Regions from separate parts of the Homo sapiens genome. Here region 1 is linked to region 2. The links come from fine-mapping of genetic effects on gene expression. A gene starts in region 2. The other region holds a variant in brackets. All regions are shown on one strand. Distances are between the middles of the regions. Region 1 has its middle 22 kb from the start of IFITM10. Region 2 holds the start of PRADX (PRC2 and DDX5 associated lncRNA).

What was found.
Region 1: its variant is fine-mapped to the expression of PRADX in whole blood (INTERVAL, PIP 0.98).

Annotation. Positions count from the first base shown.
Region 1 is chr11:1,726,271-1,730,654 of GRCh38, forward strand. No RefSeq gene overlaps it. Among named protein-coding and RNA genes, the nearest start is that of IFITM10, 22 kb to the right of the region's middle. The variant A/G (reference allele first, on the strand shown) is at 2,464.
Region 2 is chr11:1,758,651-1,763,034 of GRCh38, forward strand. It overlaps PRADX (PRC2 and DDX5 associated lncRNA), which reads left to right and starts at 1,698. Exons shown (of 2, transcript NR_182291.1): 1 at 1,698-2,544; 2 at 2,669-3,836. It overlaps CTSD (cathepsin D), which reads right to left. Exons shown (of 9, transcript NM_001909.5): 2 at 2,659-2,818; 3 at 866-989; 4 at 319-437.

The sequences.
Region 1 (4,384 bases), 32 kb before region 2:
CTGCTGTAAAGTCAGATAAATAGACCAGTGGGACAGACTGAAGTCCAGAAACACATGCACCACGTCTCTACGGCCACCCAACAAACCACTGAGGGCCCCTGCAACTTAGTGGGGGAAAGATGGTCTTCTCCATGAGGGACATGGCAGCACTGGGACGTCTCTATGGGAAGAATAAAAATACTAACATTGCCCCGGAGTTGGTTCAGGTTCTCCGGCAGCAGAACCAGAAGTGAGAAGATCTCCATGTCTGTAATTTACTGGGGACATGCTCCTAGGAAAATGGGGGAAGGGAAGTAAGATTTCAGGAGAGTGGGGGTTTCTGTGCAGGCCCAGCTTCTGCCTAATCAATGGCAACTCTTGATCATAGATCATAAGTTTATCTTGATGCAGACAGGGGAGCTTGGCTTTGGGGCTCCAGCCGGAAACAGCAGTGACTAAAGACTGTGAAAGGGATATGAAGTCCAGATACAGGGTCTTCCCAAGTACCATCTCAGTCGTGGACTCTTGGAGACAGATGCACACTGAGGCTGGGGGTGGGGCACAGAGGAACAGTGGTATGACCCAAGCAGACCTGGGTGGAGGACCTACAGTGTCCTCAGCTCCCCCGACCTCCCACCTCACATCATACACAAAAATTCATCCAAGGTGGAGCACAGACCTAGATCCAAAAGGCAGAACAATAAAGCTATTAAGAGAAAAGCTTCATGACCCTGAAGTGAGTAAAAAAAAAATAAAGAAAAAAGAAATTAAAAATTAACAGGACATGAAAAACATCAGTCATACAAGATAAAAATTATAAATGGAATTTAATAAAAAATAACTTAGTTATCAGAATATAACATTAAGACAGTGAAAAGACAAACTGCAGAGTGAGAGTGTGCCTAATTACATTTGTCTGGAATGGTTCCTCAATCTTTCCTTGACGTTCATGACCTCGACACTTCTGATTATAGGCCAGATCTATTCTCACGATCCCTCAGTTTGGGTCTGCCTGGTGTTTGGCTGTGCGTTTTTGGCAGGATATTAGTCACCTCAGGCTGCCACAGCTAATATGACTGGGTGGCTGAAACAAAAAAAATTATTCTTTCTCATTTCTGGAGGCTGGAAGTACAAGACCAAGATCAAGGTGCTGGCAGATTTGGGTCCTAGTGAGGGCTCTCTTCCTGGCTTGCAAACGGCCGCCTTGTCACTGTGTCTTCACAGGCTGTGGGAGAGAGAGAACAAGCCCTCTGGTGTCTTTTCTCATAAGGACACTAACCTCATCATGGGGGTCCCATCCTCACGACCTCATCTAACCCTGATCAGCTCCCAGAGGCCCTGCCGTCAATACCATCACAGTGGAGGTGACACAAACATTCAGTCCTTAACCGGCAGAAATATCACAGAAACGACTCCGTTCTTATCAGTGCATCCCATCAGGTGGTGAACAGTTTCAATTTATCTGGTTGTTGATGACATTCACTTTGATCATTTGATCAAGGTGATGCCTGCTGGGCTTCCCCACCTGTAAAGTTACCTCTGAAGGCATAAAGTCATAAAGTTTCTTTGTGATTGCGATGACTCTTTAGGAAATTTCTTTGGAACTAAAGATCACTGTGGTTGTTCAACTACCAGTTTATTGATGTATTAACATCAGTGTATTAAACTCGGGTTCCTATTTTATGCAATAAACTGTAATCTTGACTAACATTATTGGCTTTGATGCTCAAGTTGTCTCTGGCGTGGCCGGTGGGAAGCGACTCCTGCGTGTTTTCTGCATGTCCTCGCCCTGGCTCATCCTGCCCCTGACCTGTCTCAGCCTGGAATCAGCTGCTTCCCCAGGGAGCCCCGGGTCCTGTCGGTGGTGAGTGGTATTTAGGGGCCAGGGTCTGCCACTGGGGGGTTGCTGCTTTCAGAGCCTCTTAGAGGAAGGAGCTGGAGAATAAATGGATTCCTCCAACTCCAATCCAACACCACAGGCTGCGTTCTAGTTTCATCCCTTTCAATATTTGTCACTCTCTTTGCCCACAGTGAGAAAGCAGACTCCCATTTACTTCAATATCTTTACTTCTTCTACCGACCCCCTGGGTGTAATCACCTCCCTCCCATTGCCACTGCCCATCTCCCCGCAGATGCCCTTCTCATCAGGCATGGCTCTGGCCCCCTCCTTGCAGCCCCTCCTCTCCGTGCCCAGCCTCCTGCCCCCCTCCTCGAGTGCCTTCCCCACAGGGATGCCCCCACATTCTCCTCTCTGTGCAGCTTAGTTCACAATAAAAATTACTAATCACCACTGCTCACTTTCCATTCCCAGAGCCACTTTTCTTCTGGAGATATTCTTTCTATGCATTGGAATTACTTATGAATAAATATAAGGCTAATTTCTCTCAGAGATATTACTTGAACCCAAAGATGTTCATAGTTATTTATTTTATTTTCATATGCATATGAAAATATGTCAGTAGACATTTGAGTTATTTCCCATTG[A/G]TGGCATTTATACATAACACTGCAATATATAAAAGACATAAATATTATACAGAAAACTACATCAAGCATAAATGTACAACTTAATGACTTTTATAAAGCAAATAGTCATGCAACCACCACCAGCATCAGAAAACGGAACCTTCCCAGCAACCCAGAAGTTGCCCCACCTGTGCTCAGATTTGTCAAATGCATCAACGTTTTTCATTATGATCACTCTATTTGTGTCTTGCCGAGAAAAGCAGTAACCAAATGGAAGATGTTGGTAATTGTGACTATATTAAAATTGGAAACTTCTGTCTATAAAAAGATGCCACTAGGAGAGCGAAGAGGAAAGCCTCCGAGCGGAAGAAATTATCTGCACTGCGTAGAACCATCAGAGGACGTGGACACGCTGTCCTGAGAGAACCCCTAGAATCACGGAGAAACTGACAGCCTGGTAGGAAAGAAATGGTCAAGACACTGAAATAGTCATTTCACAAACAGGAAAACCAAATGGCCAGTCTGTGCGCAGAAAAGACGCTCGACTTCCTCACCCATCTGGGAAACACAAACCAAACCCACCACGAGATACTACCACATGTTCCCCTGAGTGGCAAAAATTAAAAAAAAAAAAAAAAAAAAAAGACTGACAGCAGGTGCACTGGGGAGGAAATGAAACGGTGGGAACACACACTGCTGGGGGAGGCGCAGCCATCTTGGAGGGCGGGCGTCGCCTGCTGAGGTGGAGGATCAGCAGACTTCATAATTCGGCAATCCCACTACTAAGGATCTGCCCGAGAGACATGGGTTCTGGGGGCCCCGAGCAGCACACACAAGGATGCTTGCAGCAGTGGTACCCCTAAATGCCAAGACGGAAACCGCCCAAGCGTTTGTCGGTGGTAAAATGGATATGTACGCTGTGGTACATGATGCAATGGATGTCAGTCTGCAATGAAAATTCATAGGCACCCCAGTGAATCGCCGGGGGTGACTCAGCGCAAAACACCAAGCACAAAAGAGTGCATGGCCCGGTTCCATTCATAAAAAGTTCCAAAAGTCAGGAGCCTGTTTAACAGATGACGGCGCTGAGGGATGCACTCTTAGGTCGTAAAAATGTACACAAGGACTTGGAATTGATTGCTGGGTGTTGATCAGTCAGGGTGGTGGGTCCCAGCTGGGAACGAAGGGGTGGTCAGAAGGAGCCCCCGGGGGCTTCCAGGGGTCTGGACAAAGTGCTCTTTCTTGATATTGTATGGTTAAATTGATGGGTGATTGCTTTGTGAAGATTCATCAAGCTGTACATTTTCAAAAATTTTACTTTTAATTGACTTTGGGCACTATTCTGTGCGTTATATTTCACATTTAAGAAGTTTTTGTTTAAAGAAATCCTTTCTTTCCCATAGGTCATGAACAGCCCATTAATTTTGGCTAAAAGTCATCGTTGCTGCTTTGAAAATAATCGGTTTTCTCTGGCTGCTTTTAAGGCATTTTCCTCTGTGTCTCTGGTGCTGTGCAGTTCCACTGTGATGTACTCAGCCGGGGATTTACTGTTCTATCGTGTGGGCTTCACTGGTCTCAAATTGGTGGGTTGATGGAGCTTATCAGCTGTGGGCCATTTTCAGATGCTGTTTCCAGTGACTACTTCTGCTTCTTCCACCATCACAGCCTCTCTGGCCAGTCTCCCAAGAGCACATCTCCCGTCCTGGCTGCGAGCGGCCCCGACCACCCCTGCAAAGCCTCCAGCTCAGCAGGTGGATGTGAAGTCGGGGTGGGGAGGAGATTCCTGTCCCTTTTCTGTCTCAGAACAGTTCCCCTCTCCGCCCAGTCCCTGTCAAGGACAGTTCCTCTCATCCTGAGGTTCAGTGGGCCCTGTGGTTTTGTGGGGTCAGAGACTTCCCTGGCCCCTTGTGCCCCCATCCATCTGAGCTAGTCAGCTGCATGC
Region 2 (4,384 bases):
CCTCAACACCTGCTGGCACCTCAAACCCAATGTGCCAAAAAGAGCCCGATCGATCTGCCCTGTCCTCCCTCCCACTCATTGTGGCCTGACTCCGGGGACCCCTGCCCCTGTACCCCCTGGGTTTGAGGCTGTCCCTCCAGCCTGCACACAACCAGGCCCATTCCCAGACCCCTCCTCACCCTGCTGACTGCCCCGGCCACCTGAGGGCTGGGGTTGGGCTGGGATCACCGAGCCCTCCCTTTCAACCACATACCCACGGTGGGTGAACCCCACACCCTGGCACCCTCGAGTCCTGGGAAAGGCCCCAGAGGGACTCACCGACACAGTGTCCTGGCTCAGGTACCCGGAGAGGCTGCCCGAGCCATAGTGGATGTCAAACGAGGTACCATTCTTCACGTAGGTGCTGGACTTGTCGCTGTTGTACTTGTGGTGGATCCCTGCCCCGGGCGACAAGGGGGCCCGCCGGTCATCCCGCAGCCCACGCCACGGCCTTAGCCCTCCCATCCCCCTACAATCTACCATGGAGCCCGCACCCCCCAAGCTGCCTCCCCAGGGTGGGATTTGGAGGGGATCTGAGGCCCACCATCATGCCAGAGCCCCGGGACTGTGGGCTGTGACCCCGGGCCTCCCTCCCAGCCACAGCCGGCTCCCTCTGTGGCCACCCCAGCCCCAGCCCTGCTGAGAGCAAGACCACAGCTGGTGGTTCACCCAGAAAGTCAGTGGCTGGAGCAGGGTGGAGGGCTGGCCTGGCTCACGGGGCCAAGAGGCAGGAGAATTGCGTTGCCCAAGTGATTCCTGAGGCAGCCCTGCAGCGACATCCCGGAAGGGCAGGACCTGGGCGACGGGGCCAGGGTTCGTGACTCACAGCAAGCGATGTCCAGCAGTTTGCAGTGGATGGAGGGGACCCACAGGTTGGAGGAGCCCGTGTCGAAGACGACTGTGAAGCACTGGGGGGGCGTCCCGATGCCAATCTCCCCGTAGTACTGGGCCTGGCAGGGGACAGGGTCCGTCAGGGATGGGAGAGGGGGCCCCATCTCCCCACTGGGCCTCAGAAGGCCCGGCTGTCCCCAGAGCCAAGGCCCATACTGGAGGGAGGGGCATCACGGGGCCCACAGCTGCCAACAGCCACCCACTCCCACCTGCTCAGCCTGCAGGGAAGATGGGCCAGGTCCCCAGCCCTCGGTCCTAATGCCCACGGGTACTTGGGGTCTCTAGACCCCTGGCTTCTGTCACCTACCCCTGCTCAATACATGGTGAGGCTGAGGACTTCCCCACGGAAAAGACAAGGCCAGAGGTCAAGCCAGGGTGGGGACAGACGTGGCCCTCAGCCTGAGCCCCGGGTGCAGGAAAGCCCGGCCTGGAAGACTCCCCTGGTGGCCCGCAGTCCAAGGTCTGAGAAAGGAAGTGACTTCCTCCCCAGGTTGGGGCCATGTCAAGGTCTGATTCTGGGTGTCTCAGTGCCTGCCCTGCCCTCCAGGGTGAACCCCAGGCTTGGAGGGCTTCCAGGCAGAGGGGTTCAGCTGGTCAAGGGGAGAAGGTAAGCCTTACAATCACTGCCTGCCCAGCAACCCTGCCTTAATGGCCCAGGGCCTCAGTTTCCCCGTGTGTACACAGGGATAGCAGGCGCAGGTGGGGGTGCTGACTCAGGGATCAGGCAAGTACAAGGGGTCCCATGCCGCCGAGCCTCTCAGGAGGCAGAGAGTAAGAGGGTCCTGGAGTTTGGGGTCGCCTGGGCGCCCGCTTCCCCCAGGATTGGAGCCTGGGCCACCGTCAGCCACCAGATTCCTGGCACCAGCCCAGCCCAATGTTTCTCCAACCGCCTGGCTTCACGGAGCAGCAGCAGCTGCTGACTCATGGCCCCACAGAAGTGACCACTGGCAGGGGGACACTCAGCAAATTTCCATGTGTGTGTGTGCATGTGTGCGCATGCGTGCATCTGCTTGCTCGCGCGCTAGGACAATCAGGAACTGGCCAGTCGGGACCAGGCACACGGCGCCTGGTTCCCCCCAGGGCCCCCCTGGCCCAGTCACATGCCTGTGAGTCTTGGGCTTCCTGTCACAGCCAGGACTCGGGCCAAGCAGGACAGAGGGCAAGGCTCCCCCACAGTGGGCCAGAGCCCCGAGGCTGGACAGTAGGCCCTGGCCTCGAACTGACCCCATAGAGCTGGGACCAGGCTGACCAAGCCCCAGCTTGCTAGGTGGCTTCCAGAGTGCTCCACCTTGGATCCTGCTTCCCCCTGAAGGAGTAGTGGGCACAGGAGGGGCTGTTGCGAGAGGAAGAAGATGGGGAGGGGCTGGGGAGGCCACGAGTCACCACAGGCCTCCCAGCAGGACAGCAGTGAAAGGCTCCAGGTCAGCCGGCCACACTCAGGCAGGCCCAAGGACCGCCCCCTCAGGCGAGCTGGCACCAAGGCCCGAGGCCACTCCCAATCACCCTCCCAGGCCCTAGCAGGACCAAGACCCTGCAATGACAGGGGCCAGTGGCAGGAGGTTCCAGAATGGGGAAGAAAGGAGTGTGGCTGAGCCGGGACGCCACCGTGGCCAGGTGAGCCACTCAAACTGCGCTGCTGAGAACAGGAGGTGGGAATGTTCCCCATACTGCCACGGAGCTCTCCTGACAGTGGCTCCGCTTGCAGCAGGGCTAAGACCTCATACTCACGTCCATGTAGTTCTTGAGCACCTCGGGAATGGGCCCCTCGGTCACGGCTGGCACCGCCTGGGAGTACTTTGAGACGGGGCCTTTGGCAATCAGGTCCTCCACAGAGCCCCCAACCTCCGACATGGTCCGGCGGATGGACGTGAACTTGTGCAGCGGGATCCTGTCAACCACGGGTCGGGGCATATCAGGGAGGCCCTCCCGCCTGCCGGCCGACGCTGCCAATGCTGCACATCCACCTGGAGGCCCCTGGGGAATCTCAGAGTCGCCACAGCCAAAACCAAACTCCTGCCTGTCACCTGGAAACTGCTGGCCCAGCTCCCCCAAGTCAGTGAATGGCAACCCATTGCCCCCCGCCAGGTTGCACAGGCCACAGTCCTAAGAAGTGGTCACCCGCCACCCACCTCAGCCCCACACACCCAACCTGGGGGCCAGTGTGCCCAACCCTCCTCTCCTCAGCCATTCTGGAGGCTCCAAAGCCCCCAAGGGTCTCCCGTCCTCCCTCTGCACCTGCGCTGGTCTCTTCCAGGATGGTGGCCAGCATGGCTGCTCAGGGTGCTGGCGGGTACCTGTCACTCCTGCCCAAAGTGCTCTGAGGCAGCCCACTGTACCCAGCCCCCATCACACCTGCTCTCCACCCCCAGACACCTGCACGAAGGTGGCCCCACCTCCAGGCTGGCACTGGCAGCTCTGCCTGGCCTCCTCTGGCCATCAGATGGGCCCTCCACACCACCTCCAGAAGCCCTCCTTGACTACCTGTCCTCCTCCACATGGACCCTGTGGCTGCCCAGTGCCCTCATCCCACATCTGTTTCTGGGCATCCGCACCTCTCCTCACTCCATGCGGCTCCACGAGGTCCAGGACTGCACCTGGGGCCTTAGAGGCTTCTGTGCTGCCCCCCCCACCGCCCTGCCTCCTCCGACAGCTGCACTCAGGGTACCCCTCCAGAGTCCTGTCACCCAGCACACCGCCAGCCAGGGTGCAGGAGGGAGCTCCAGACTGAGATCGGGGTCCTGAGTTCTAAACCCAGGAAGCGAGTAAGAGAGAGAGGGGTCCCTGCTCCTCCCCCAGGGCCACTGGCCTTCCCCTTGGTGTGAACCCACTCCTTGTTCCAAGGAAGCTCCCCTGGGCTTTTAATCACTTAAATAAAACCTCTTCCCTGCCCCAGGGACTTGAGAGTACAAGGTCATAGCTGGCTTTTCCTGGCTTGTCAGGGGCGTGATCCCGGAAGATGAGATTATTGCCTAAGAGCTGGTGGGCTGGAAGAGCTCCAGGTTTTGTCCTGGGGGAGGGACACGCCCTCCAGGGACCAGGAAGCAGGTGTAATAGTATCAGTCGCACAAGAGCTGGAATCGGGTGAGGGCTTGGATTCAGCTACCCTTCCCTCCAAGAAGCCCCAGGATCGTTTCCCCTCTGCTGTGTCTGTCCTCCTTGGAGAGGGGAGGCCTGTGGATAGGCTGGCAAGGTCAAGGCAGGCTCAGGCTTGTGGCTACTCCCCCACAACGACTTTAATTGGGGCTACCCGCCCCCGGGCCATTCCCCACAGCCTTTGGTGAGGCTCAGTCCTACCCAGCTGGCCCAGCCAGCTCCAGCCCCTGCAGCCTTCTGACCTCACCCACCTGCCAAAAGGCAGTGGACCCATCGCAGATCCCAGGTCTCCCACAAAGGCCCAGAGCAAGGGTGGGGCAGGTGCCCAATGGGATGGGTCAGCATACCCCTCCTGGGAATG